Linked DNA regions of Homo sapiens. The protein of the gene in region 1 interacts with the protein of each later gene in a pairwise test. Each region holds a gene or a part of one and is shown on either strand. Other genes may lie near its edges. The genes, in order: ZSCAN26, CDR2L, KRTAP4-12 and PDE4DIP.

Region 1 (7,721 bases):
GCATTATCATAGGCTGCTAACAGGGTGTACAAATTAGTGTAACTTTTCTGGAGGGCATTCTGGAAAATGCATCAAAAGCCTTAGAAAATATGCCTACCTTCTGCCTCATTGATTCTCATTATGGGAACTGAACAAAGAAAAAAATTCTGTAAGTAGGCAAAGTTGTATATACAAGGATGTTCACTGAAAAATTGTTTATGGTGATCAAACTGTAAATGACGTAAATGATGAACAATGGGGACATATACCATAGAATACTGCACAGCTTATATGGAAAATTATCTTCCACAAACACTTTAAATAAATCTGCAGGGATTTGTTTGAAACCTTTATTAGAAGGAAACAGTATTCTATGGACTCCCAAGACCAGGATATATATGGATTGCAGAGGCTGAGGGCTGAAGTTGTCACTCTGGTGATATGTTTTGGAGTGGACGCCCCTAATTTTAATATTCTTCATCTGTGACATTCTGCTATTCACAGTATAAAGATCATGATCTCCTCTCCAAGCTGACTTTATTGTTTAACTTCCGAAGTATTCCAGAACAAGCAACATTTCAAAATTGCATCATCAGTATTAAAGGGAAAAAGTCCAATTTCTTTCATCAGACATTTACTGAATAGTGTCTATGCAGCAGCCACTATACTGGCACTGGAGTTATCAAGTCAGACAGTTGCTATTCAGATTAATTCAGCAAGGTTCATTCAAATTACTCATGAAATCTCTTTCAAAGTCTAAGTAAAACGTTAATTTATAACTTGAATCTTGACATAATGTGGTGGGGAATGGGGATGGGAAATGGTAAAATTACATGAAGCTAACCCTGAAGGCAAGTTCTGAAGTTCACCAGCGAAAATTATCTTTGCTTTTGAAAATGCTTCCACTGGGGAAGGAAGGGGTAAGGCCAGTGGGAGGAATGAGGTGAAGCCACTGGGGGAAAATGTTCACCATTAACCTGTACTTTAAAGACACCTTTGAGAGTAGTATACTTCCAAACATCATCAGTTTTATTTCATAGGAGAAAGCTGCTATAGCATATCCAAAAATATCAATCTTCCCTTGTTCTGCTTAAGCCTGCAAATCTGTGGGCACTTGATTCACTGCTGACTTCAAAACTCTTACTCAGTCATGAAGCTCTCTATTGCTTAGAGTATATAATCATGCAGTTATGTTACATGCTCTGAGATGTCCTGCAGTGAAGAATGCTGTTTAACTTTGATCCTAGCATATCATCTACAGTGAAATTATTGTGGTCCAAAGCTGACTTCAAGGAAAGCAAAGGAGAGAGAATAGAGGCAGGGAGCCTCCAACTCAGCCCCCAAGAATTTTCTGATGCCACAGTGGGCTACGGTGACTTTTCCTAAAGTGCTGTTTGCTAGTCAATGTGCCTTCTCTGATGTTCTACAAGGAGAGAACACCTCATCAAGCCAGTTTGTCTTTGTGGTGATATCTCTGATGTTGAAAAAGACCTGACCTTTGCCTGAAGGCTTCTCCACATTCACTACACTGATAGGGTTTTTCTTCATTGTGGATTCTTACATGCTGAGCAAGGTGTGAGTTTAGTCGGAAGGCTTTCTGGCATATGTTACACTTGAAAGGTTTTTCTCCAGTATGAATTCTGTGGTGTCGAATAAGGTCTGAGGTCAAACTGAAAGCTTTTCCACACTCGTTACATTGATGGCTTTTGGAGTGACTATGGATTCTCTGATGGTGGGTGAGGAGTAAGGCCTGACTAAAGGTTTTTCCACACTCCTTGCACTCACAGGGCTCCTCCTGACTGTGAATTCTCTGATGTCGATTAAGGTGAGAGCTGCGCCTAAAATTTTTTCCACAATGGATACATAGATAAGGTTTCTCTCCAGTATGAATTCTGAGATGTTCCAAAAGGCCTGCATTCTGGCTAAAGACTTTGCCACACTCATTGCACTGATAAGGCTTCTCACCAAGATGGATTTTCTGATGTCTGACGAGGTGTGAACTCCTCTGAAAGGCTTTCCCACACTCATGACACTGATGACCTTTCTCTCTAGAGAGGACTTTCTTATGTCCTGTAAGACTGGAACTCTGACACACATCAGACTCGCAGAGTTTCTTTCCCGTGTGTGTACTCGCATGTTCAATCAGGTCCAAGTGCTGGATGAATCTCTGCTCACGTTCTGAGCATTTATACTCAATCTTCTCTTTGGGCTTGGCCTGATGCCTTTCCAAGTTAGAGCCCTCATTATGAGCCTCCATGGGTTCAGATATTTTCCCAGATGACTCTACTCTTCCACAAGAGTCTGTTACTACAATAAGCTTCCCATTCTCAATCCTTGTCTCCTCACCTGCAATATTAAATATATACCACCAATTACTTGTCTTTTGATGCTTGGGGAAAGGAATCTGCAACTAAAAGGAAAAAAAAATATAATGAAGCCATGTGTGCAAAGTAAAAACATTGTGGATGCTTGTGATTGCGTAAAATAGTTACAGAATGGTACACAAGACATTGTTAACTGTGACTGTCTTTGGGGAAAGATGGGGAATTCTGGTGGGAGGTGACTTATTTTAAATAGTTTAAATTTTATCATGGGATACCACACACAGAGAAGCTAGCAAGCAAGCAAATAAACTGTCTTAAAGGGCATGGCTGTACAGTCTTGAAGATAACTTGTCACATGGAAAATAAAAAAAGCTAGGTTAATTGAGGCCCCCAGGGCCCATAAGAAAGGGACGACATTTTAACTGAAAATGAAGAAATGTAGATGTGGTGCCCAATTTTATCACTAACTGTGTAATCTTAAAAAAGTAAGGTAAATCATCTGGGCTCTGTGTCCTCATCCATAAAGAAAGAATAATGTACTATAAGACCTTGACAATAACATGAAGTTCACAAAAATGCCTTCGCCTTTCCTAATCTCCTTGGACAGCAGTAACTGCTCTCCTGTGTGGTTCAACAGAGCTTTAATCTCAACGCTATGATAATTTATTCATGTCTGTCGCTCCCTGCACCCCTGATGCACAATGCCCCAAGAGACTGTAAGCACATGCAGAGCAGACTTTGTTTTCTCTAGCACAGAGCCTGGTACATAACAGACATTAAACAAATGTTTACTAAATAAATGGCCTGTGTCCTAAGGGTGAAATTAAATGAAAATAGAGAAAACTTAAGCTCAGATACACAAGCAGACGGGTGAGAAGAATGTGAAGTTTTTGTTTTGTTTCATTTTATATTTTTATTTACCAGTTTTTCTTGTAGCTAAGGATAACTCTTCAAAGGCTAGGAGCATGACTGGGGATGCAAAGTCAGAATGAGAGAGTAAAAGGAAAGCTGGATGGAGAAAATAGAAGAAAGACTCTAAGCAGCACTAATAACAAACAAAAGAGGGTTAATCAGTGTGAGCAAGTTAATTCAGCAGATAAGTAAAAAGGAAAGAGTGGATGACAGCTGAAAGGAAAAGTGAAAGTGAAGGAATTAGTAAGGAGACATCAGAGAAAGGAAGGTCACAGGTGGGGAGTGAATAAATTAAATAATGTAATAATGTACTGTGTACAAAGACCCTCTACAACAGAATGAAGTATTCAGTCCTACACAGGGGCAGGGGGCAAGAGTGAGAGATTAAGGGAAAGGAATAAGACTCTTCCAGTAATGACATAATCACATATACAACTTTAAAAAAGCAAGAGAGGATGAAACCAAAAAACAACCTGAACTTTGAATATAAAATAACATTTTTAACAGATCCAGAGGGTAAGGGACATTTTCAAGAGTCTACTGACATTACATTCACTTTTTTTGAGACATGGTCTTGCTCTGTTGCCAACGCTGGAGTACAGTGGTGCAATCACATAGCTCACTGCAGTCTTGAACTCCTGGGCTCAAGCAATCCTCTTGCCTCAGCCTCCCAAGTGGCTAGAACTACAGCTGCATGCCACCACGCCTAGCTATTTATTTATTTTTTGTAGAGGACAGGGTTTCACTATGTTGCCCAGGCTGGTCTCAAACATCTGGCTTCAAGCAATCCTCCCACTCTGGCTTCCCAAAGTAGTGGGATTACAGCAGCCACATTTACTTTTTGTATTTAAACTATACACCCATCACTGATTACATGGTAATCATTTCTGCAAGGCTAATTCATTTCTGCAAGGCTATTGAGAAAAGGTAGGCCCCTTTCTTTCAGCTACTTTATTCAGGATGCTCCCAGAAGAAAGGTAATTTGAAGCTGACTTGGAAATTGAACAGAGGAATAGGTAGCATGTAAAGCATGATTTTACATATAAAACCAGTCATTCATCAAACAGACATTTATTGAGGGTCTACACTAGGCCAGGGACTGTAGCTGACTCAGAAAACAAAACAAAACCCCTTCCCTTTTAGTCTGGCAAGAGAAAAAGAGAAGCAAACTAGAAACTGCAATATAATGTAATTAGTTCTATGACAGAAAAAAAAAAGAAGAAATGAAAAAATGTAAGGAGCAAAAATTAGGAAGAAGAATTTCAGTGACAAAGAAAATAAAGGAGGCTGGGCGAGTGGCTTGCACCTATAATGCCAGCACTGTGAGAGGCCCAAATGGGAGAAATGCTTAAGACCAGGAGTTCGAGACCAGCCAGGGCAACAGAGGGAGACCCTGTCTCTACAAATAATAATAATAAAAAGCCAGGTGTGGTGGCACACACACCGGTAGTCCCAGATACTTGGGAGGCTGAGGTGGGAGGATCACTTGAGCCTGGAAGGTCAAGGCTGTAGTGAGCTATGACTGCACCATTGTACTCCAGCCTGAAGACAGAGCAAGACCCTGTCTCAATAGAAAAACAACAAAAAAGAAAGTATAGAACCAAAAAAAAAAAAAAATCCAGGTGACGTTTAGAAATGAAAGATAGTGGCCATTTACAATAATTTGAAGGAAATGTTAAAAAATGAGTAATGAAGCATGTGGCTTTCTTTGCCTTGATTAAGAAACTAGCAGTACTTGTTTTTTTTTTTGTTTGTTTGTTTTTTGAGACAGAGTCTTGCTGTGTCGCCCAGGCTGAAGTGTAGTGGCGTGATCTCAGCTCACTGCAATCTCAGCCTCCTGGATTCAAGCAGTTCTCTGCCTCAGCCTCCCGAGTAGCTGGGATTACAGGCACCCGCCACCAAACCTGGCTAATTTTTGTATTTTTAGTAGAGACAGTGTTTCACCATCTTGGCCAGGCTGGTCTTGAACTCCTGACCTCGTATACCTACCCACCTTGGCCCCCCAAAGTGTTGGGTTTACAGGCATGAGCCACCATGCCTGGCCACTATTTGCTTTTTTAAGAGATGTTGCCCAGACTGAAGTGCAGTGCAACAATCATTGCTCACTGCAGCCTTGAACTGGGCTCAAGTGATCCTTCTCCCTTAGCTTCCCAAGTAGCTGGCCTGGCACTGCTTTTTTTATTCACCCCTACAGTAAGAGGAAGAAGAGCAAGGTGAAGGTCCAGGTTCCCTTTGTACCCTTTTCTTGCTATTTTGTTCAGCTAAAATATTTGGGGTGATAGATATCTCTTATCTCTTGATAGTGGTCCTGATTAGACCACAATTATTTCGCATTTGTGAAAACTCATTGACCTGTACATCTAAAAAGAGTGAATTTTACTACATATAAATTATGCTTCAGTAAACCTGACTCAAAACAAAAGCAAAAAACAAAATACAAGGGTGCTAAGCACAACCTCAGAGGGAAAGGCACAGTCCACCACGTCTCACACACAGAAGATGCAATCCAATTCTTACCCTTCTCTTTCTCAGGCTTTGTAACTTCACACTCATGCCGAACCTGCTGTTCCTGTACTCCTTTCAGAGGGGCCATCTCCTCCACAAGTATTTTTTGTTTCTTTGGCTGGTCTGGGTCCTAGGGACAATTAGGTATATGGAGGCATAATTAGATATATGTGGGTTTAGGAAACTGCTGTTCAGTAAAACACCTAGGTGTTAAAAAAGAGAAGAAAGAGAAACCCCAGAGGGGCAAAGAAAAGAAGATGGGGAATCTGGTGCACATTCAGTTTTCTCCAAGCAAGGGCCAGGTAAGGTTGAGGTAAGACCTAAGGAAATTAACAGCTAGACTGGAAAAAAACTGAATCAAAGCTTAGTAATTCTCCTTCCGCTGATGAGCCCATGTCCACCTGTCTGGCCAGAGATCTCAATTCCTGCATTCCTGAAAAAGAGCACATCTGACCCTTACCACCTGTTGTCCTGTTTCTCCAAGATCCAGCTGCAAATCCTCCAGAACAACAACCACGTCCTCCCTGCTCTCTGGGTGATGCTCCTGCACCCGGGCCTGGAGCTCCTTAGGCAGGATGATCAGAAACTGCTCCAGCACCAGCAGCTCCAGGATCTGCTCCTTGGTATGGGTCTCGGGCTGTAGCCACTGTTGACAGAGCTCCCGGAGCCGACTTAGTGCTTCTCGAGGTCCTGTGGTCTCTTCATAACGCAACTGCCTGAATTGTTTGCACAATGGCTCCTGTCCAAGGCCTTTACTGTTTCCTTGCAGCTTGAATCCCTGTTCCCAAGTAGAGTAGTGATCCTCCCTCACTACCCGAAGCCCCTCCTTCTTCAGATTCAGGGGAGCCAGGGAATGGGCACTCACCAATGCTGTTGCCATCCCCAGCTTCAGACTGTTCTCCTTGTTTTGGAGAACTTTCTTTGGACTGTATCTTCAGAGACACTCCTAAAATTATAGTAACAAGAGTGACAGAAACAGTAATAGTACTGCTAACAAGAACAGTAACATTTTCTTGGGTTTATACATTTCCTATTATCCATTTTTTCTCTCTAAAACAACCATTTCTAAACATACATACAGAAGGAAAAAACTATCTTACAGAATACCATCTAATGTAGAAGGAATAATAGATTTGAAAAATCACCATTTTGTAGCCCTCAAAATAACTGAGGCTAGGCACTGTGGCTTACACTTGTCATCTCAGCACTTTGGGAGGCTGAGGTGGGAAGACTGCTTAAGCCCAGGAGTTTGAGTCCAGCCTGGGCAACATAGTGACACCAGGCATGGTGGCACATGCCTGTAATCCAAGCTACTCGGGAGGCTGAGGAGGGAGAACTGCTTGAGCCCAGGAGTCTGAGTTCAGCCTGGGCAACCAGAGCAAGACCTATATCAAAAAAGGAAGAAAAGAGAGAAAAAGAATGAAAGAAAGAAAGAAAAAGAAAAGAAAAAAGACAAGTGAAAGACAAGGAAATAGAGAAAGTTTTTTCAGACAAAAAAGACACCATAAAGCTGTTGGATGTTCAGTGTAGTAGTTAGTTATGGCTGGGAAAACGTTATATGGAGCCGGAATCCTGGGAAACATCTACATGTAAGAAACAGAAGTGAGATGGAACTGGAAAGGTAGGAGGAGAAAAAAGACAATAGTATCCAGAAGGTCAAGGAGGTCTATTTCTGTAAATGTGGAATGGTGGAAAGACCCTGGGCCTTAGACAGGCCTGGGTTCCAATCCAGCCCTGTCACTTACATGTTGTGACCTGGGGCAAGTAACTTATCCTTTTGGACTTAGTTTACTCATTTGTAAAATGAAGATAATACCTAATTCACAGAAGTTTTGAGGTAAATGAGATAATTCTAAAGAACAGAAGGAATTCACTGATTTATAAGGGAAATGATATGAGCACAGTGTTCAAGAGTGTGAAATGCTATAAGATGGTGAATTAATCTAAGACCTGGCATAGACACTTGATTCAAAAACAAAGATGTCATTAGTGACCTCTGTG
Region 2 (7,721 bases), on another chromosome or scaffold:
CCTCCAGAAGATGAACCCCTCTATGTACCGTCCTCTGTATAACATGGGGAGGAGACAGATATCTGAGGAAGAATGGGAGTGGTGAGGTTTTTCATGTATATGGAAGAGAGATATGGGGTTTATCAGCTTGAAAAACACCAGGAGATGGCCCTCTTGTCATTCCTGTGACTGTCCTGTGTCATCAATGGGTGGCTCACCAAGGGCAGGTCAACTTCCCCATCCCTCATGGTCCTTCAGGGCATCAGTCTGGCCCTGGACTTCCTGCCGTGGCGTCTCATTGCACTTAGGAGGCCCGAGCTCCCCTGAACCTTCCGGGCTCTTAGGAGCCTGGCCTCCACCCTCTGTTCTGGCCACCCCCCACTGCCCCAGCTGCTCCCTGGGCCTCCACTTATCTTCCCGTTGGTTCCTCCTCAGCCTTCTGGTTTCAGCTTCATCATCACCTCTCCAGAGGTGCCCTGACCACCCTCGCTTAGCATTTCTCAATCTTTTTTTTCCATGATCGCTCCCCCTTCCTACCTCAAAGAGCCTATTTAGACATTTTCTCCGAATTGCTCCCCCAGGAATTTTAGTAACACTGTATATCTCTTCATGTGCTGTATTTATATATCTAGATATGATTTTTTGAGACAGGGTCTCGCTCTGTTGCCCAGGCTGGAGTGCAGTGGTATGATCATAGTTCACTTCAGCTTTGACCTCCCAGGCTCGTGATCCTCCCACCTCAGCCTCCTGAGTAGCTGGGACTACAAATGCACACCACCATGCTCTGCTAATTTTCAAAAAATGTTTTGTAGAAAGGGGGTCTTGCTATGTTGCCCAGGCTGGTCTCAAACTTCTGGGCTCTAGCAATCCACTTTGGCCTTCCAAAGGGCTGGGATTACAGGCATGAGCCACCGCGCCAGGCCGATTTTTTTTTTTTTTTTAACTTGGTTCACCCTGTTGGGCCCACGTGCTCTAGCTGAGGTAGCACTACCCTCTTGCCCCGATTTTTCCATCATGCCGTATCTTTTGTTTGTTTATTTTGGGTGGATCTCCCCACACCAGAATATAAACTCCAAGGGAAGAGGGGCCCTGCTGGCTTGTTCACCATGTATCCCTAGCTGGCCCTCAATAAATATAGAAACTTCTGCCAGAGCCTGCTATTTGGAGCTGTTCAGTCTCAGGGAAGTGGGACACAGGATGTTACCCTCTCCCATGGCTGGGCGTGACGCGAGGCAGGTGTGTGAGATGCACAGAGATGGGCCATTTTTGCTTTTAGAATACTGGTGCATTTTTTATTAAAGAAGAGAATAAAGCATTTGTAAATATATTTCTCTCACGTATACTTCAAAGGTGACGCTGGTCTGCCACTACAGAGCTGGGGAGCAGACAGGCTGGAGCTCTTCCCCCAACCCTTCCACACTCCTCTCCCCCAGATAACAGACACACACGGAGGGCAGGGAGCTGCCTAGCCTCAAAGGACAAAAGTTTCCCAGTTGCACGTACAGAAGGACTCAGTCGCCACCAGCTCCCATCACAGTGCCGCCCGGAAAGCAGGTGGTGTCTCCAGGAGGTCAGGGATGCTTGGTAAGAAAACCCCTTTACCCATTAGAAATAAATAAGGCATGAAGGTTCCCACTGGGATCCCGGTGCAGAGGCCAGGGCCCCCCCGCCTTCCACTGACTGTATGGCTCTTCTGGTTTCTAAGGTCTCAGGAAGGGCGGCAGAAGGAACCAGAAGCCCTGAAGGGCTGCTCAGGGCAAGCTGGGGACCTGGGTGTCTCTTAGCTGAACTTGACTTTCTGACATCTTGAAGCAAAACTCCTGACGCAGCTGGGTCCTCAAAAGCCCCCCACAAAGGTGGGAGGTGAAGAGCAGGCATTTTATGGGAGGGAGGGAGGGAGCATGTTCCTCAGCCCCATCCCAATACAACACGATGCAGCATGGGGCGAAAACCCCAGTCCCCAGTGAAGGGGAGGCAGGGGTGGACATTGGGACCACCGGCTGGTGGTGCATGTCCAGAACATTCTGGGGGCTGCAGACATGACCTGTGCCAGGGTTGGCCTGTGGGGAGCGTGGAGTGACTGAGACATCATGGTCCCTGAGATGGGGGCAAGCACAGAGACGGGAGTCAGAGGCCAAGCTTGGTTAGTTGGTGGCGGTGTGAAGGGATGGGGGCTCCCCACTGCCCCGGCCCCTGGAAAGCTTAAGGCCCAGCAGGCATTTCTGGGGTTGGAAGCCAAGGAGACAAGCTCTGAGCGAAACTGCACCACTCTGCTGAGGGGCTCCTTCTCCTCCTCCTCTGACTGGCTACAGATCTGCGGTGGGCCAAGAGTATCCAGGGAGAAACCTGTCCCTGGCAGGGCTGGAGCAGGGACACTCCAGGCCCAGCTGAGGCTTCCTGCTCTGCATGGCAGGGGACATCTCTGACCTGGTCAGGACCCTGGAGGTGGGACAGCTGGTGCTAAGGGAATGTCAGCGCATCAGGGTTGGGGAGAAGCAGTGGGTGGTCCAGGAAACCCCTGAAACAGCTGGCCCTGGGGTCCCCTTTCAAGTGTTTCCAGTTGTGGCAAGGGGTCAAGGAGACCTTGCATTGCAAATCTCTTAGAAAAAACAAACTTAACCAAAAAAAAAAAAAAAGCCAACTGATCCAGAATGGCTTTCAGAAGCCTGGTCACCAGTCTGAGGGTGAGGCGCAGGGTCAGGAAGCCAGGGGCTGGGGGAGCTGGGGGATCCCTGGGGTAGTGGGGACATTTGGCTTTGAACTCAGAGCTGCGCCTTTGGGCTGGCGCGAGGTGGCCAAGGGCTCCTGGGAGGCAGGACAGGTGGGCTGCCTCCGCTCAGCAGGGAACATGCTGCGTGCTTCCGGATCAGGAGGCCGCGTGCTGTGGTGGCAGGCCGCTAAAGGGCGCTCGCTCTCTGGAAGCTGCACCGCCCAGGCCTGAGGGACCCCACGGCTTCCACCCTGGGGGAGGCTGCAGGCCGGAGAAGGGTCACTTGCTGCTGTGCGTCTTGACTTTGGTGGCGTTGATGTCAGCCTTGGTCTTCTGGATCCTGGAGAAGATCTCTTTGAAGAGCGCCTTGTACTCGGGCTGGCTCTGTTCCAGCCGCTTGTCCACGGCCTCCACGTGCTGGCTCAGGCTCTTCTCTCCTGCCTTGACCTCACCCTGGCCCTCCTCACCCCCGCGCAGGTCCCTCCACGAGCTGTCCCGGGAGATGGGGCGCGAGGTCTGCACGCCGGCGTGCCGCACTCCGGCCCCGTGCTGCCGGCACTTGCTCAGCAGCTCCTCGTACTTCTCCAGCAGCGCGTGGTACTGCTCGTCCACCTCCCGCAGGATGGACATGCCCCGCTTGCGCACGCTGTTGGCGTGCAGTGTGAGGTTGCCCGCGTGCCGGCTGGCTGGGTCTTTGGCCACGATGGCGTTGAGCGCAGTGTCGCTGCAGCTCTTGCGCACCACGTGGCCTGGAGAGGCTGCCGGTGAGGAGACCCCGTCCTGGGCGCCCAAGTCGTCCCCGCGGCCGGGCTGGGGATCGTCGGCCTCAGGGGCCTGCGTGAGGGGTGCGAGCAGGGCCTCGGCCAGGTGGTCGTCCGGACCCAGTAGGTAGGTCTTGGCCTGCTTCATCTGCTGCAGCTCCAGCAGCTCGGCCTCCAGCTCCTGCACACGCAGGCGACAGGCCTCCATCTCGCACAGCTGGCGCTCCAGCTCCGAGTACTCCTGCAGCACCGCGGTGTACTCGCGCTCCGCCCGCTCCTTGCGCTGCCGCTCCTGGCTCACCTGGGAGCGCAGCGCCCCCACCAGGGTCTGCAGCCGCTCGTTCTCCTGCTCCAGGGGCCGCGGGCCCAGCTCCAGGGAGGAACTGTGTAGGCGGAAAGCATCCTTGCACCTGGCGGGTAGTGAGAGTCGCAGCGGGGTGGGGGCGGAGGAGAGGGCAGTGGTCACGGGCACGGCCAAGGCCGAGCAGCCCAGCCAGGGCGCTTACATCTCTCTTGTTCTCTGGGCTGAAATTGTTTGCCCCTCTCCGTTGGCTCTCCACCCTCCTCCACCCTTCTCCCCCTGCTCTCTGCCCCCGGAGGCTGACCACTACGGACCGCCTCTGTCAGGTTGCCTGGTTCTCTCCTGAGCTTGGCCCATGAGAGGCACTGGCTAGAGGTCCGAGGGGGGAGCAGAGGCCGTGGGGTGTGTCTTCTTTGGGCTCTCCATGGTTAATGGTGACCAGGCAGCCTTCTCCATACCTTCCAGGTGCCGGTAACCTCCCTTCCCCCTTGCGCTTTGAGGCCTAGGGCTGGTGGCAGCTCCTCTCTGCTGCAACCCTGGGGCACTATAGTGTCCCTGTGGTTTCCCTACCCCCTGCCCACACCTCTTCTTCATTTAACTTCTCCATTACTCTGTGTAAGAGACTGTTTCCTGCCAGGACCCTTATTGAAACACCCACTACATATGACACATGTATTTTTCCATTATTAAGTGGTTGTCTAGTGTTAGATTTAATGGGAACTGAAAAGCACAGTGGGTTACCCCTCCTGGGTTAGCATGCTGGCTGAGCCTCTTACTAAACAGGTGACCTTGGATAAGACACACAACCTCTGGGCTTCAGTTTTATCATCTGGAGAGTAGGCATAATAAAACACCCCCAACAGTGTTGCAATAAGAATTATATCAGCATAGTGGCAGCACACAGCCAGGGCTCAGTAAACGCCAGCTGCTGTGACTGTCATTAGCAACAGGACCAGTCTCTCTGATGGCCTGGATGATGCACCAACTGCACCCTGCTGCCTGCTGCCTCTCCTTCCTCCCATGGCTGGCAATCCCAGAGACACCAAGCAGTGCTCTCACCTACCGGGGGCTGGTGCACAGCTCCTTGAGGCAGGGGAAGGTGTGGATGGTACGCCTGCGTTCCCGCTTCTCCCGGAGCACTCGCAGCTGTTCCAGGCCTCTCAGTTGCTCCACCTGGGCCTGCAGCTCCTCCACCTGAGCCTGGAGGCGCTCAATGGTCTCCGTCAGCCTGGGGGCGGGGTGGTGGACACACAGGGACTTTAAGGGGATGGGGCCAGTTTGCCTCACGGCAGCCCTGGCTCCCTGAAGATGGAGGGACGTTGGGTAGGAGGCAGACAGGTACCCTTGAGCCGCTGTCTGGTCCTGAGGTAGGATGGGGAATTCTATGCATGCCCAAGGACCCGCCCTTCTTTTGTACCTCTCAGGCGAGCTGATCGCTTCTCCTCTGTGCCACCTCAGTTCCTTGTCACTCCTCTATCACTTATTGTCCTGCACTGCCATAAAATATTTACATGCCTGCCTTCTCTTCCAGGCTGTGAGGTATTAGAGGGCAGGACAATGTCTTTGTTTCCCCATCGTTGCATCCCCAGTGTCTAAAGAAGAGCCTGGTGCATAGTTGGTGCTTAAAGCAAGGTTGCGGCCTGAATGTTAAACCACACAAAATCGACAAGGACAAGCTCACTCCCATCCCCGGTTCCTAGGGAGACGTGCACAAGTCACACCCATCAGTCCATGGGCCCCTGTGTACACTCAGCCCTGGGGCTCTCCCTCGCCCGCCCCCCAGCCCTCAGCCGGGCCCTCACCCATGGATCTTCTGCTGGGCAGCCTTACTCTCCAGCACCAGCCTGTGGTTGGTCAGCTCCAGGTCCCGGGCTGTCAGGTCCAGCTGCTCATAGACTTTGGCGTGCTGCTCGTTCACGTGCCGCAGCGTGTCCAGCTGCTTGGTTAGGTACTGGGGGTGGAAGGACATTGAGTAACTTTTTAGAATTGGGCAGGGGCAAATGTCTCTGCCTAGACCCTCCTACTTCTTTTTTTGTCTTTTTTCTTTTCTTTTCTTTTGATACAGAGTCTCACTGTGTTGCCCAGGCTGAAGTGCAGTGGCATGATTTCGGCTTACTGCAACCTCTGCCTCCTGGGTTCAAGTGATTTTCATGCTTCAGCCTCCTGAGTAGCTGGAACTATAGGTGCCTGCCACCATGCCTGGCTAATTTTGGTATTTTTAGTAGAGACAGGGTTTCACTATATTGGCCAGGTTGGTCTTGAACTCCTGACCTCAAGTGATCTGCCTACCTCTGCCTCCCAAAGGGCTGGGATTATAGGCATGCACCACCACGCCAGCCTCTTTTTTTTTTAAATTAATTAATTTATTTTTTTTGAGACGGAGTCTTGCTCTCTCGCCCAGGCTGGAGTGCAGTGGCGCGACATCGGCTCACTGCAAGCTCCACCTCTTGGGTTCACGCCAACCATTCTCCTGCCTCAGCCTCCTGAGTAGCTGGGACTACTGGTGCCCACCACCATGCCTGGCTAATTTTTTGCATTTTTAGTAGAGATGGGGTTTCACCGTGTTAGCCAGGATGGTCTCGATCTCCTGACCTCGTGATCTGCCCGCCTTGGCCTCTCAAAGTGCTAGGATTACAGGTGTGAGCCACTGTGCCCGGCCTTTTTTTTTTTTTTTAACTTCTAAAATCTTTTTTATGCCCGGCGTGATGGCTCACACCTGTAATCTCAGCACTTTGGGAGGCTGAGGCGGGCAGATCACGAGGTCAGGAGATGGAGACCATCCTGGCTAACACAGTGAAACCTCGTCTCTACTAAAAATACAAAAAAAATTAACCGGGTGCGGTGGTGGGCGCCTGTAGTCCCAGCTACTCAGGAGGCTGAGGCAGGAGAATGGCGTGAACCCGGGAGGCAGAGCTGCAGTGAGCCCAGATCGCGCCACTGCACTCCAGCCTGGGTGACAGAGTGAGACTCCATTTCAAAAAAGAAATAAATCTTATTTATTTTATTTATTTATTTTTAAGACAGGGTCTCGCTCTGTTGCCTAGGCTGGAGTGCAGTGGCACAATCACGGCTCACTGCAGCCTCAACCTCCAGGCTCAAGCAATCCTCTCACTTCATCCTCTTGAGTAGCTGGGACCACAGGCTTATGCCACCATAGCCAGCTAATTTTTGTATTTTTTATAGAGACAAGGTTTCGCCATGTTGCCTGGGCTCAAGTATTTCACCCACCTTGGCCTCCCAAAGTGCTGGGATTACAAGCATGAGCCAGCAGCCCCTTCTCCCCTTCTAAGGACAAGTTTGCTTTGATGTATTTGTCTTCAGCTGAGTGGGGCTTAAAAATGGTGGTTCAGGCTGGGCCTGGTGGCTCATGCCTGTAATCCTAGCACTTTAGGACGCTGAGGTGGGAGGATCACTTGAGCTCAGGAGTTAGAGACCAGCCTGGGCAACATGGTGAGACTTGGTGTCTATTTAAAAAAAAAAAAAATCTAGTTGTGCAATAGGGCTGCCTGAGATAGCTGTGCTATCCTTGTACAGGATAGCACAGTTGTGAACTGTACCAGGCTATTGGGCTAAGGCTGTGTCCGATAAGCTGGCACCTTATTCTAAGTTGCATAAAGGCACACACAGGCCAAGGGGCCCTCGAGGGGTGTGGGCAAGCACATGCAGGGCCCTCACCTCGATCTCCTGCACCTGTTCCTCATTGGTGGAGTACATCTGCTGCAGGGACCCCTCCAGCTCCTTGTTCCTCTCCAGCAGAGTCTTCCCCAGCTCCGCAGCTAGGTGCAAGTCTAGGATAGGAGAAACACGAGCATGAGAACAAAGGCAGAGGACGCCCATTCATGTTCCGAGCATCTACTCTAGGTGACCCCAATGTAACCAAGACACTGGGAGCCTCCAGGCCTGGGAGGAGAGGTAAGCCAGGAGCTAAGCCTTTGCACTGTTATTTCTGCCTGGAATGTTCTTTTTGTGT
Region 3 (7,057 bases), on another chromosome or scaffold:
TCTGCCAAGCCTTTGTGAAGGAAAATGTTAACATTTCCGGAAGGACATAAAATAATGTTTGAATAAATGTCAGAACAAGAGATGTGCAACGAAAGCCAAGTTTTCAAATAAATACATACATGTTTTATGCATGCATTTAATGAGGATGTATCTCAATTTGCAACATTAGGTATTGAATGGGATTGGCAAAGATCATGATGGGAAACTTACTTTTGTTCACATTGTCACATTCTTTTGTATTGTCTAAATGTTTAAAGAGCATATATTTGTGTATAAATGATCTAAACATCCTTAGAAAATAATAAATGTGATTTATATAAAATTCATAATTTTTCTACATATTCTGTTAAATATATTTTCTGCTATTATGTTTACATTCTTATTTCTTTCAGGAACTAAAATATTAAAAGTACATTTCAGTCAGTCATTTGAGCTCTCAAATTAGCTATCATGAATTTCAAATTGTTTTGGGGGACAGGCTGGGTTCCCCAGGAAGCAGTCACTGAGATGGAGAGCAATATGCAGGAGGTTTATTGAAGCATGCTCTTGGGATTAACACTGGGGAGGGCAGGGGAGGGGAAAGGGAGGGGAGGGGAAAGGGAAAGGGAAGGGGAAGGGGAGGGAAAGGGAAGGGAAGGGAAGGGAAGGGAAGGGAAGGGAAGGGAAGGGAAGGGAAGGGAAGGGAAAGGAAGGGAAAGTGAGAGAAAGATCAAGTTTGACACTGGGATAAATCAAACTGCAGGGCAATCTCCGTGGAAGTCTCAGATGAACCTATAGGGAGTTCTGGAGATGAGATGACCCATTAGAGGCATCCCTAGTTGGGGAGAAATGTGGGTCTTTATAGTTTCATCCTAAAAAAAGGGCATGACTTTGGACGAAAAGAAAAAAAATCAGTCTCCAGCATACCTGTGAGTTTTCACTAGGCCTGCTTCCTTCATTTCCATCACCTGCCTGGCCGTGAAGGTGGCCCTCTCTACATGGCAGCATGAACTCCCCATTGAAACTCTGCCAGTCAGAATGAAGGAGATCCACTGTGTTTGTGTTGAGGATTCATTACACATGACTCAGTAGAAAATACATGGACTTTGCTAAACCACCTAATAGCTGCTTTTACTGGAAAAAAAAAGAAATTGAAATACAGTGTTTTAAAAGATCACAGCTCTGTGCACAATAGTAAAGACATGGAATCAGTCTAGGTGCCCATCAACAGTGCATTGGATAAAGAACATGTGACATTTTCACACCATGGAATACTACACAGCCATAAAAAAGAATGAAATTTTGTCCTTTGCAGCAACATGGATGTGGCTGGAGGACATTATCTTAAGCAAATTTTTCCAGGAACAGAAAACCAAATATTGCATGTTGTCACTTACAAATGGGAGCTAAACATTGGATACACATGGACACAAAGATGAGAACAATTGGGGACTCCAAAAAGGGGGGAGAGAGGGAGAGAGGAAGGGCTAAAAATGACCCACTGCTCAGTACCTGGTGACAGAATCATTTGTAGCCCAAACCTCAGCATCACACAACATGTAACAAATACGAATATGTACTCTTTGATTCTAAAATAAAAGTTGAAATTATTTTTTAAAAGATGATGAGTTGTGATCAATCTTTCAAAACGTTTCCCCTGTTGTTATATTCATGGATATTTCATGACTTCAGCTTCACTCTTTTTGTCTAAAGAATACAAAATGACTAATTGATTTGCCTAAGCCTGAAAAGACTTTTCTAGAAAAAAACTAGGCAGTGATCGATGTCAGTTGACCTCTGTTAGAAGGTTGACTAATCTGTGCTGTGAGCCCTACAGGTGTAGTTAAATGTAATCACCCAGGACCTAAATATAAAACCCTTTTTAAAAAGAGAATAAGAATCATATTCAATTTTCAGTGCCAATAGAATAGAGGTTTATTTTGGTACATGGAAATAACAAGGTACAAAAATGTTTGCAAAAGACTTTAAGAGAGAGACTTCACTGGACTTCAAGGTTGGAGGCTTTAAGATCTGTGGCCCTACAAATGATGGAGGCAATCTTCAAATTCCTTAGGCATGATGAATAAATGTCCTGAAGTCAAAGAGGTGGGAGGATGTTGGAGGACAATTTGTCAATTTATTAGGAGATTGTCAATGAATTCCTTTGGAAGGAAGGGAGTTTGGACAAAAGGTAGAATGCAAATACAGAATTTCTAAGGATGAGGTTTGCTTATGGGACCCAGATCAATTCTCTTGAACAGTCCGCATGTTTGCAATGAGAGCCTTCATCTGTAGGAAAGGACGTAATAAGGAAGTGGTGTGTTCACAGCAGAGATTTAGCAGCAAGAGGAGGCACAGCACAAGGGGCGGGGGCAGGTGGAGATGACACAGGTTGGGCGATAGCAAGTGGTGTGGCAGGAGACTCGGCCACAGACTGGACGCAGGCAGCAGCAGGGGCGGCAGCAGCTGGATTCACAGCAAGAGGGGCAGCAGCTGCTGGAGATGCAGCAGCTGGGGCGGCAGCAGGTGGGCTGGCAGCACACAGACTGGCAGCACTGGGGTCTGCAGCAGCTGGACACACAGCAGCTGGGGCGGCAGCAAGTGGTCCTGCAGCAGGTGGTCTGACAGCAGCTGGGGCGGCAGCAGGTGGGCTGGCAGCACACAGACTGGCAGCACTGGGGTCTGCAGCAGCTGGACACACAGCAGCTGGGGCGGCAGCAGGTGGTCCTACAGCAGGTGGTCTGACAGCAGCTGGGGCGGCAGCAGGTGGGCTGACAGCACACAGACTGGCAGCACTGGGGCCTGCAGCAGCTGGACACACAGCAGCTGGGGCGGCAGCAGGTGGTCCTGCAGCAGGTGGTCTGGCAGCAGCTGGGGCGGCAGCAGTTCTCCAGGCCACAGCCCTGGTCAGAGCACACAGAGCCACAACAGGAGTTGACCATGGTGTCAGAGGGTGGAGGTTCTCGGTGGGTTTCCAGGAGAGTGAGTGTTCTGAGTTTGATCTCTCCTTGTTCTCTCTTTTGCTTTTTATACCCTGCTGAGAACCACTATGACAATGTGAATAATCTTGTGGTTTGCACATTACTAATAGAGAATCAGTTGTTTTTTAGTAAATTAGATAGTTGTCCTTATCTGGTAAATATTTCTATAAATAGAAAAGGCAACATTTCCTTTTCCTGTTGTATTCTGAGCTATCCAATTTGGTTAAGCCAAGTGAATCAGCTCTCATTCTCCTTCCTTCATCTGATGTGTCTTCTGATGTGTAGACCCATTACATGACATTGTTTGATTGGATTTCATAAGTTAATTCTTTATTTATTTGACTCCTGGATAATAAGTTGAAAATAGATTTTATGATGACTAAATCTCCTCTGCTCTCAAAGAGGTTAAAAATAAATTACATAGAATGCTGGTAGGAAAATGTGATGAAAGATTCATCTTTGGGGGGTGATAGGAGGTAACTTGTGTATAATAAGGAACACTGTGATTCCTTTGAATTTTGTGGCTGGTCAGTGAGATATAAAAGATCCCACTGAAATTCCTGTTTCATGTTATTGACTCTATTTAGCTTGAAACAGATATAATGCAATGATTCATTGCTTTACAAGTAAAAATACATTGGCATGATAGGTCCCTTTATAAATTATTGTTGGCATGTTCTTCAGAGATGGGGATCATAAGGAACATTTTTGTTCTATTTTGTTGGTAAGTCAAGATACCCACTGAATGTGTTTAACTGAAGTGTTATTGAAAGTAGATTTTCTCATACTCGAAAGCTGCTTTTTCTCACAATGTATGTTGGAGATATTTTGCTTGATACATGGAGAAAAGAAACAAAGGATCAAGTTTAATTTCTGTCCTACAGAAGCTTAAACAAGACAAATAAGAAACATGTATAGGAAAGAATTTAGCAACTATTTAGAGAATGGTGTGATTAGTGAACAAAATAACAATTATGTATTTAATCTGTACACTTCCAATGAAAGATGAAACAATACTAATAGTTATAATTTTTTGAGTGCTTACTATGTGTCAGGAATTTTCTGAGTCCTCTATAATTGTTATCTTGTTTATACTTCACAAGGATTCTGCTATGTAGACACAATTTTTCTAAATTCTTTACATCCAAGGTACTTGAGGCCCAGATAGATTGAAGTCACACAGTCTGTAACAGGGAAAGGGCGTCTCTCCTAGAGTGTTCAAGGAACATTTTGCGCATGAACATTTTGCAATTAAATCCCTCCTGATATTTAAAAACAATTATTTATAATTAAAAAGATGCAAGGTATGTTCTCACTCCTAAGTGGGAGTTGAACAATGAGATCACATGGACACAGGGAGGGGAACATCACACACTGGAGCCTGTCGGGGGTGAGGGACAAGGGGAGGGAGAGCATTAGGACAAATACCTGATGCATGTCGGGCTTAAAACCCAGATGACGGATTGATAGGTGCAGCAAACCATCATGGCATATGTATAACTATGTAACAGACCTGCATGTTCTGCACATGTATCCCAAAACTTAAAGTAAAATTTAAAAAAAAAAAATGTATGGTAAGAAACCATCATAAACAAAGTAAAAACACAAATGACTAAATAATAAAAAAAGAACTAGCAATTAATATCACGGACAAAGGGTTAATAGTATATAAAAGACTTCTGAGACTGGACACGGTGGCTCACACCTGTAATCCCAGCACTTTGGGATGCCAAGGCAGGCGGATTGTTTGAGGTTAGGAATTTGAGACCAACTTGGTTAACTTGGCAAAACCCCATCTCTACCAAAAAAACAAAAAAAAGCAAAAAAAAAAAAAAAAATGGCGAGGTGGCATGCATCTGTGGTCTGTGGTCCCAGCTACTCAGGAAGCTAAGGTGGGAGGATTGCCTGAGCCCAGGAGGCGGAGGTTGCAGTGAGCCAAGATTGCACCACTGCACTCCAGCCTGGGTGACAGAAGAAGAAGAAAAAAAGGCTTCTGGAAATAGATAGAAAACAGACCAACAGCCTAATGGGAAAATAAAATGCAAATATTTTACCACCATATAAATATACTCAATCTCATGCATAGTAAGAGAAATGAAATAATATGGTACGATACTTCTCACCTGTTAGATTATCAAAAATTCAAAATCTGATAGCATTCTCTGGAAGTGAGATGATGTGAAAATAGGCATGCTCGTATTTGTCTTGTGAAGGTTTGGCAATAACTAGCAGCATTATTCTTTGACTCAGCTATCCCAATTCCATAAAATATCTCAAAGATACTCAGGTAAATATATGAAAGATATTGCACAAGACGATTCATAAGAGTTCTATTTGGGAAAAAAACTAAAAACTACAACAACACTGGATACAACCCAGGTGTCCTTCAATAGGGTACTGGTGTATAAACTGTGGTGCCTTCCCATGATGGAGTACTATGCAGCTGTCAAAAGGAATAAGGAGTGTCTCTATAGGCTACTATAAATTAATCTCCAGTAGATATTGTTAGGAGACGATAAAGCAGTGGAGGAAAATGTGTACAATTGTTCTGCAACAATGTTTTAAAAATCCAGGATATAAATATTGAAAGTATATTTGCTTACACTTTAAAAAACGACAGAAGAATAGAGAGAGAGGAGATGAGAAAACAGGAAAGAGGGACTTCTGTCAAAACATCAAATTGTGCATTTTAAGTACATGCAGTTTATTTATTATATGTCAATTGTAATTTAATGTAGCTGAAAAAAAAAGAAAAAAATAATGGAAGAATCAACCACATTTGGTTTTGTTGTTGTTGTTGTTGTTGTTGTTGTTTGAGACGGAGTCTCACGTTGTCACCCAGGCTGGAGTGCAGTGGAGCGATCTTGGCTCACTGCAACTTCCACCTCCTGTGTTCAAGCAATTCTCTGCCTCAGCCTCCTGAGTAACTGGGATTACAGGCGCCCACCACCACACCCAGTTAATTTTTGTATTTTTAATAGACATGGGGTTTCACCATCTTGGCCAGGCTGGTCTTGAACACCTGACCTCATGATTCCCTGCCTCAGCCTCGCAAAAGTGCTGAGATTACAGGCGTGAGCCACCGCACCCAGCCCATGTTTGTTTTTTAAAAATTGACCCATAGAGGATGGAGGGAATAGAATAGAGAAGATAGAAACAGACACTAGATTATTTTTGAATGTATCTTTTTCTGTAGCTTGGACTTTGCACCCATGTAAATATTTTACATACTTATAAAAATATTAAATTTTTAAAATCTCTCAAAATCACTAAAACCACCACCACAACAATGGAATCTAACTGTATATCCAGGCATAACTTCAGAGAAAGTAACTATCCCAAGGCCAAAATGTTTTTTTCAAAAACCTGTTAAGTTTGTTTGCAATAACTACACTGTTGTTATTAGTATTGGCAATATTATTCCAAGATTGTTGTGCAAGCATTAGGTAATAAAGAAAATGAGTAATTACATCAAGGAACTGTTATTTTTGGCAAGGAATAAAAGAGATTTAGGAAAAAGATATGAGGTTAAGTAAAAATCCTGTAATTATCAGTAGAAACGCTGATGTACTTTATCTTTTAAGCAAATATTTTCTAGTTGTGGACACTGAAAAAGTTGAGAGAAAATAATCAATTTAGTAATACTCATCATTTTTACATTTCAATCTTTCGTCCCAAATGCCATATTCACTACAAGGAACAGGGGTTCCTTGGAGAAATGGCTGAATATAAGTGTGGGTAAGGAAATATACAAATGAACCTGGAATATCTTATTATATATATATTAAAAAAAATCTACTAGATTCACGTCAAAAGTAGCCAGAGACCAACTTGAAGTTTGTTATTTGAGCACCAATGGGGATATGAACTGGAACCCACAGGTTCATATTGACAGGAGTTAAAAAAAATACTTTGGTCAGCTTTGAATGATGTTCCATTAGCAAGATTAACCAAGAAAAGGGAGAAAAAATCTAAATAACCTCACTAAGAAATGAAATGGGAGCTATTACAACTGACACCACACAAATACAAAAGATCATTCAAGGCTACTATGAACACCTTTATGCACATAAACTAGAAAACCTAGAAGAGATGGA
Region 4 (7,721 bases), on another chromosome or scaffold:
CCTTTACAATACAGGGATTCAGGTCTTGAAAAAGATATTTAAATTGAATGCAATATCTTTCTTATGGGACTATAACTTTAAGTAATTTGCAATGTACTTTCAAGAACTGGAAATGTTGACATAGTTATTCTACTTCTGAACATCTCTCATTCAAAAAATAATGCTGTGGAAGAAGATGCTTTATGCACCTAGACATTTATCAAGTATTATTTATAATAGTTAAAAATTGGAAGTCTACATCCTTTGGGTTAGGCGTAATGATTTAAAAGACACTGTAAATCCACAGCATGTTATTCTACATTATGAATGATAATATACCACATTATGAAGTGGAAAATAAATTCATTCTTAAATTGTGTGAAATGCTAGAAATTATTCAATTTTCTTTGTGAGTCAATGCTTTCTAGTTTTTTTTTTTTTTTTTTTTTTTTTTTTTTTTCCGACAAAGTCTTGCTCTGTCACCCAGGCTGGAGTGCAGTGGTGTGATCTCGGCTCACTGCAACCTCCACTTCCTGGGTTCAAGCAATTCTCATTCCTCGGTCTCCCGATTAGCTGGGATTACAGGCACCCCCCACCATGCCCACTAATTTTTGTATCTTTAGTAGAGATGGGGTTTCAACATGTTGGCCAGGCTGGTCTCGAACTCCTGACCTCAAGTGATCCTCCTGCCTTGGCCTCCCAAAGTGCTGGGATTACAGGCGAGAGCCACTGTGCCTGGCCAGTGAATGCTTTCTATATGTCAGAAGTTATTGCTTCTTTCCACCCTTTCCACCATGACCATGATAAGAAGACACTAGTTGCAAGTTACCTCTTCCCTCACTGGCCTTGGAAAAGACAAGAAAGAAAGACGTTTCTGTGGAATGTAACAAGCAGAAAAGGACTGAAGATAATGAGACAGATTAAGGAAAGATGAATCACAGGCTGTGAAAGTGCTATGAAAATAAAACAGTATTATTATACAATTTATTATAAATAGTCTATGACTAATTTAGCACTTTAGCCATAAGCGTTCAGAAAAAAGAAATTCAGATCATGCTTGTCTTGCTGGCCACAGAACTCAGAAAATGCTCTGAGGCAGAGGAAAACAAGTCCTCAGTGCATTTGAGTGTTTTAAAATAGAATCACATAGAGCCACCTTGGGTCAATATGACATCTCTTGTATTCTGGACTTTCTTCTAACTTTAAATGCTATTTGAATTTTTGCCAGAGACAGCTTGTGGAATGTTCTGAGCCCAGTTTGGAATTTTATTTATAAAATGGGGTAGATTTCAATAGAAGTAGTGTCCTGGGGCATCCACTGAATGGATGGATGCTCCACTTAGCCTTGAAAATATGATCCCTCAGCCACAGTCAGGCGAGCCTCCCAGGATGGGGACGGCACCATGAGGTGTTACTTATCCTTTCTGAGACAAAAACAACCCCTTCCCAGTCTTTAGGTATTTTAAACATAGTCTTAGCATGTAGCTGAAAAAATGGGGGTTGGGGGAGTCAGGTCCAGACTGATCTAGTGTGTGGAAAATAAGCAAGTAGGAGTGAAAGCATTGATTCTGGCAAATTCCCCAAGCCGAAATCCAAGTATAGGCCCATTTAAAAGTAGACTGGAGTTGCCAAGGCAGAATTTCCTTCTTAAAATTCAGATAATTAGTTGCTAGCAGTGCTGAATATTAAACAGGAAATTCAACTTCCAAAGATGTTTCAATAATAGAATTCTGAAAACAAGCATTTTCCTAATATGAAGTGTTACATGCAAAGCACCAGCACCATAATAAGTAAAGGTACTGGAATTAACTAGGCCTTCATACAACACATACTAGTTGTGTGAATGCCAGCAAATCATTTAACCACTTTAACCTCAGTGGCCATATATCTCTGGTTGTAACTATGTCTTTGTAAACAGGACTCTCTACTAACTCACCATAAATTCAGAGAAAAATAAATGTCCCTGATTCCTCTAGGCTAAACATTTATATAGAGAAAAACAAATTCAAATAAGCTATCAATGGAGATCTGTTAAGTACAATATAGCTGTGGTAAATGGACACCTTGTCTTGCTTGAAGGCTGTACTCCAGAAAAGAAACAAAGTCAAAATTCTTAAATTTTGAAACCAGATCATTAATTTTCTTGAATGTTACTTCCATTTTCCAAATTTTCACAGATACAGCAAGCAAATGCAATTAATGCTTGCATTTTATTAAATCAAATTGCAGGGGAATAGAAAACAAAACAAAACAGACTAATTTGCTTTCCTTTTTTAACCTTCAGTCTTATAGTTTGCCCTTAAACATTTCTAGTTCACTCTTTTCTTGAGTTATGTGTTCGGGGAAGTTGTATAAGGTTCATATATGATTCACCTGATGTTTACTCAGCTTTCTCATATGCTAGAAACCAGAACATTTCCACTGAAATGGGGAAGATAATTAGTAATGACTTTTTCAGCATTGAACGATGTGGTAGGCTAAAATAATGGCCTTATAAGAATGTCCACATTCCTAATCCCCAGATCCTGTGTATATGCCACTTTCCATAGCAAGAGAGGGCTTTGCAGATGTGACTAAAGATTTTGAGATGAGGAGATTATCCTGGATTATCTGGTTGGGTCCAATGTAATCATAAGGGTCCTAGTAAGAGGGACACTGGAGGGTCAGAATGATCAAAGGAGATGTGATGATAGAAGCAGAGGCCAGTGATGGCATTGCTGGAAGGGGCTATGAACCCAGAATGTGGGCAGTCTCTCGAAGCCATGAAGGGCAAGGAACAAATTCTCCTTTAGAGCCTCTAGAAGGAGCACAGTCCTGCTGATACCTTGGTTTTAACCTAGAAGACCAAATTTCAGACTTCTGACCTCCAGAACTTTAAGGCAATACATTTGTATTGTTTTAAGCCACTAAGTTTGTGGTGATTTGGCTGGGCGCAGTGGCTCACACCTGTAATCCCAGCACTTTGGGAGGCCAAGGCGGGTGGATCACTTGAGGTCAGGAGTTTGAGACCAGCCAGGCCAACATGGTGAAACCCCGTCTCTACTAAAAATACAAAAATTAGCTGAGTGTGGTGCCATGTGCCTGTAATCCCAGCTACTTGGGAGGCTGAGGCAGGAGAATCCCTTGAACCTGAGAGGCGGAGGTTGCAGTGAGCCAAGATTGCACCACTGCACGCTAGCCTGGGCAACAGAGTGAGACTCCATCTCAAAAAAAAAAAAAAAAGTTTGTGGTGATTTGTTACACCAGCAACAGGAAATTAATACAAACAGTAATCCTGAAGTACTGATAATCTTTAAAGCAGAAGGTGTAGGGAGTTGCTAGTCCAGACAGGTGGATGCTAAAAATTTAGAGCAGTAGAAGCTGTTTGCCTGGTTGACACTGGACCTGCCGGGTGAGAAAACCTCCCCTCATCATCAAGTTCTTCATCAGCTCCATGAGCTTATTCTTTTGACAACTCTCGCCCTGTTCACGGAAATAAATCTGAAAGCTGGTGACCAAATCAGCTTTTTGTAATGCCAGTATATTCATAGAAAATTTGCTATTCCAGAGCCAACCATGCTCTGTCCAAATGATTTAACCAGTGAGTTTGGCAACAGTCAGGTAACGGCCCCAGCGGGTAGGGGGAACCTTTCCATTGAGCTGTAGAGGGGCAGATGATGTGTAGCTGGGAGTAGAGCATATCTAACTTTGAGAACTAAAATACCAAGCACCTTGTCCTTTGTGGGTAAATTGAGCAAGTAGCTAGCTTCAGAAACAAGTCATAAACTGAGTCACCTACAAAACTCTACTAAAATAAAGTAAAAGCATAGATTTTGGAATGAAACAGTTCAAGGCTATATTTCTTTCTCGGCTGTGTGTGTCACTCTGGGAAAATTATTTAATCTTTCTGAAGCTCAATTTCCTTTTCTTAAAAATGAGTATAACATTTACTTCATAGGGTTGTAAGGATTAGGTGAATTAAGTATTCAAAGAGATTAGCACACAATTAAAGCTTAATAAATGTTATCAATTATGGTTAATTTTTATTCTTTCAATCCCCTATCCACTGTGTACCCAGAGCAGCCACTGCGTATCTCTGCCTTAGTGTCTCTCTATTAAAATTATAGATGATGACAATGTAAAGCCATTAAAGGCAGAGACCCAGTCTCATTCATTGCATTCATTGTTTTATTCTTAGCATCTAGCACAGCGTCTGACCTGTTTGGGGCTCTCAAAATTTATTTATTTATTTATTTATTTTTGAGACAGAGTCTCACTGTGTCACCCAGGCTGGAGTGCAGTGGTATAATCTCAGCTCACTGCAACATCCGCCTCCCGGGTTCAAGGGATTCTCCTGCCTCAGGCTCCTAAGTAGCTGGGACTACAGGTGCAGGCACCACACCCGGCTAATTTTTGTATTTTTAGTAGAGATGGGGTTTCAGCACGTTGGCCAGACTGGTCTCGAACTTCTGACCTCAAGTCATCCACCTGCCTTGGCCTCTCAAACTGTTGAGACTACAGGCGTGAGCCATTTCATCCGGCCCTCAAATTTTTAATAAGTGTTTATGAACTAATCTGATCTGTGAGTTAGGAAGGATCTGAGATGTCAGCCATGATCTGTGATTATAGGATTTTTCCAACTGTGACCCATTAGGTGGAGAAATAAATTCAGTGAATCAGAGCCAACATTTTATTTTTAAAGAAAAAGAATAGAATAGCAAATATCAGAGTGCAAAACACATAGTAAAGTTAAGTATTGTTACAAGAAACTTTGTTACATATGTAAGAGTACTTGGTGGCAATGTAAATATATTACTTATTGTGAGTAGTGGTTAAAAAATATGTGAACATTCTGAATGGTCCACCTTGCCAGCATTTGCTACTTTCTATCTTTTTAATTTCAGCCATTCTGATATGTATATAGCAGCATGGTGTTGTGGTTCTAATTTGCATTTCCCTGATAACTAGTGATGTGGAGCACCTTTTCACTATGTTCTTCCCTTTGGATACCCTCTTTTTTTTTTTTTTTTTTTTTTTTTTTTTTTTTTTTTTTTTTTTTTTTGAGATGTAGGCTCGCTCTGTCACCCAGGCTGGAGTGCAGTGGTGCGATCTCGGCTCACTGCAAGCTCCGCCTCCCAGGTTCAGGCCATTCTCCTGCCTCAGCCTCCCGAGTAGCTGGGACTACAGGTGCCTGCAACCACGCCGGGCTAATTTTTTGTATTTTTAGTAGAGACGGGGTTTCACCGTGTTAGCCAGGACTATCTCGATCTCCTGACCCCGTGATCCGCCCGCCTCGGCCTCCCAAAGTGCTGGGATTACAGGCGTGAGCCACCGCGCCTGGCCTGGATACCCGCTTTAGAAATCTCTTTTGTAATCTGTTTAAAAAAAAACAATCTGGCAGTATTTACTAAATCTGAACATGCATTTCCTATTACGCAGAAATCATACTTCTACTTATTTACTCAACAGAAATGTGTACATATGTTCATCAAAAGACCTGTACAGAAATGTTCATAGCAACACTGTTTATAATAGCTCCAAACTGGAAATTGCCCAAGTGCCTATTAAGAATAGAATGGACAAATAAATTTGATATATTTATACACTATAGAAGCCTATTTAAAAGCAAGAATAAATGGACTACAGTACCATATAACAGTATAGAACTCCAAAAGCAAAAGATTGAGTGAAAGGAGCCACGTACGAAAGAGTACATGGTGTATAATTTCATTTACATAAAGTTCAAAACTAGGCAAAATTATTCTATGGTGTTAAAAATTAGGATAATGATTATCCTTGAAGTCATCAGGAGGGCTTCAGGGATGCTGGTAATGTTCCCTTTCTCTATCTGAATGCCCATCCCATGAGTATACTCAGTTTGTCAAATTAATTGGACTGTAAATATATAATTTGCGATTTTTCCAAATCATTTCTGAATTTGTCTGAAATTGTTACATGTAAATATAAAATTTTTAAAACTTAATAAATAATACTTTTTTCTTCAAGTGTGAAAAACACTGGCAGAGAGCAAAAGGCCCTGATACACTCACTCCCATCACCATCAAGTGGTCATCTAGCCTTTGCCTGAGTAACTCCAGGGTCAACAATCTCTTTACTGCCCATACTGCCCAGGCAGCTAACTTGTTAGAAAGCTTTTTTTTAATTTTTTTTTGAGACGGAGTCTCGCTCTGTCGCCCAGGCTGGAGTGCAGTGGCGCGATCTCGGCTCACTGCAAGCTCCGCTTCCCGGGTTCACGCCATTCTCCTACCTCAGCCTCCCAAGTAGCTGGTACTACAGGCGCCCGCCACCACGCCCGGCTAATTTTTTTTGTGTTTTTAGTAGAGACGGGGCTTCACTGTGTTAGCCAGGATGGTCTCAATCTCCTGACCTCGTAATCCGCCCCCCTCAGCCTCCCAAAGTACTGCAATTACAGGCGTGAGCCACCTCGCCTGGTCTTTTTTTTTTTTTTTTTTTTTTTTTTTTTTGAGGCGGAGTTTCGCTTTTGTTGCCCAGGCTGGAGTGCAATGGCTTGATCTCGGCTCACCACAAACTTCTCCTCCCGGGTTCAAGCGATTCTCCTGCCTCAGCCTCCGGAGTAGCTGGGATTACAGGCACGTGCGACCACGCCCGGCTAATTTTGTATTTTAGTAGAGATGGGGTTTCTCCATGTTGGTCAGGCTGGTCTCGAACTCCCGACCTCAGGTGATCCGCCTGCCTCAGCCTCCCAAAGTGCTGGGATTACAGGCATGAGCCACTGCACCTGGCCAGAAAGCTTTTTCTTTACACTGAGCCATAACTCGCCTCCCAACAACTCGCTTGCATCGGTTGTTCTGTCCTCCTAAGAGATTCTAATGTGATTCAATCCCTCTACCACCAATAGCTCTTCGGAAATTTGAAGGAAGCTACCACATCCTCCCCACTCCCAGTCGTCATTTCTCCGGACTCAGGAGTCCCAGGTCCTTCCTTTGGCCATCCCTCAAGGCATGGCTTTGAGTTCCCTCCTGTCTCTTGATTGTACTTATTTTATCTAATGATGCCCAGAACTAAGCACAGCCCTCTCGGAGAGGCCCAAGAGGAGCAGAAAGGAGCCAAAAGTAAAATCATCACTTTTGATCTAGACAGAATCTAGACAGCCTACTTCTTCTGTCAACAAACCCTAAGCTTCAATTTGCTCCTTCTTTAATATTCACATTATACCATTCACTCCTGTTGAGCTTAGCAATCAACTAAAAGCACCCAAGTCTTTTGCATAAGCCCCAAATTTACCTTCTGTGTTTGTACCGTCTTCACTCTCTCAGGAGTCAGAGCGCTCATTTGGCCCCACCCCAATTCTCCAAAGCTAAATCCCACAGATGGAAGCGTATCTGTTATAGAGACACCGCTGGAATAGTCTCCCTACCCTCCCACCCACTAAAAAACAGAAACGAAGTCTTTGTCTCAATACATGGTCTCTTATCCTTACCCTTTCCTTGAATGGGGCTTCATTTTAAAGTGTGTCTGGGGGAAGGACTGGAAGAAAACGCAGTTTCACAGGCCATCTCCAAAATCTGACCTAAAAGCCAACTGTTGCCTGGCCTCAATAAAGCCTGAGCAGTGTGGTGCCCTGATCTCTTTCCTTCTCCATTCCTCCCCCAAGTGGGCTCCAACTGGAGGTTGTGGAGATGAGTGCTGCTGGGCTCTGCTCACTCAGTCCCTTTGCCTTTGTGTGAGTAGTGACAGATGAGGCTGAGAAGGAAAACGTGGCAGGGTGAGAATAAACCTGA

What was found.
Region 2: the proteins of ZSCAN26 (region 1) and CDR2L interact in binary tests that used the Homo sapiens proteins (3 or more experiments, as listed by UniProt).
Region 3: the proteins of ZSCAN26 (region 1) and KRTAP4-12 interact in binary tests that used the Homo sapiens proteins (3 or more experiments, as listed by UniProt).
Region 4: the proteins of ZSCAN26 (region 1) and PDE4DIP interact in binary tests that used the Homo sapiens proteins (3 or more experiments, as listed by UniProt).

The regions. Positions count from the first base shown.
Region 1 is NC_000006.12:28,270,799-28,278,519, reverse strand, and holds the end of ZSCAN26 (zinc finger and SCAN domain-containing protein 26), read right to left. Parts: intron 6,667-7,721; 5' UTR 6,601-6,666; coding exon 6,181-6,600; exon of another isoform or gene 5,851-6,180; coding exon 5,733-5,850; intron 2,390-5,732; coding exon of another isoform or gene 2,326-2,389; coding exon 1,424-2,325; 3' UTR 316-1,423; downstream 1-315. UniProt on the Homo sapiens protein: May be involved in transcriptional regulation.
Region 2 is NC_000017.11:74,999,322-75,007,042, reverse strand, and holds the end of CDR2L (cerebellar degeneration-related protein 2-like), read right to left. Parts: intron 7,540-7,721; coding exon 7,427-7,539; intron 5,703-7,426; coding exon 5,554-5,702; intron 4,980-5,553; coding exon 4,815-4,979; intron 3,861-4,814; coding exon 2,969-3,860; 3' UTR 1,243-2,968; downstream 1-1,242.
Region 3 is NC_000017.11:41,121,202-41,128,258, forward strand, and holds KRTAP4-12 (keratin-associated protein 4-12), read right to left. Parts: upstream 2,982-7,057; 5' UTR 2,922-2,981; coding exon 2,316-2,921; 3' UTR 1,890-2,315; downstream 1-1,889. UniProt on the Homo sapiens protein: In the hair cortex, hair keratin intermediate filaments are embedded in an interfilamentous matrix, consisting of hair keratin-associated proteins (KRTAP), which are essential for the formation of a rigid and resistant hair shaft through their extensive disulfide bond cross-linking with abundant cysteine residues of hair keratins.
Region 4 is NC_000001.11:148,845,167-148,852,887, reverse strand, and holds part of PDE4DIP (myomegalin), read right to left. Parts: intron 1-7,721. UniProt on the Homo sapiens protein: Functions as an anchor sequestering components of the cAMP-dependent pathway to Golgi and/or centrosomes.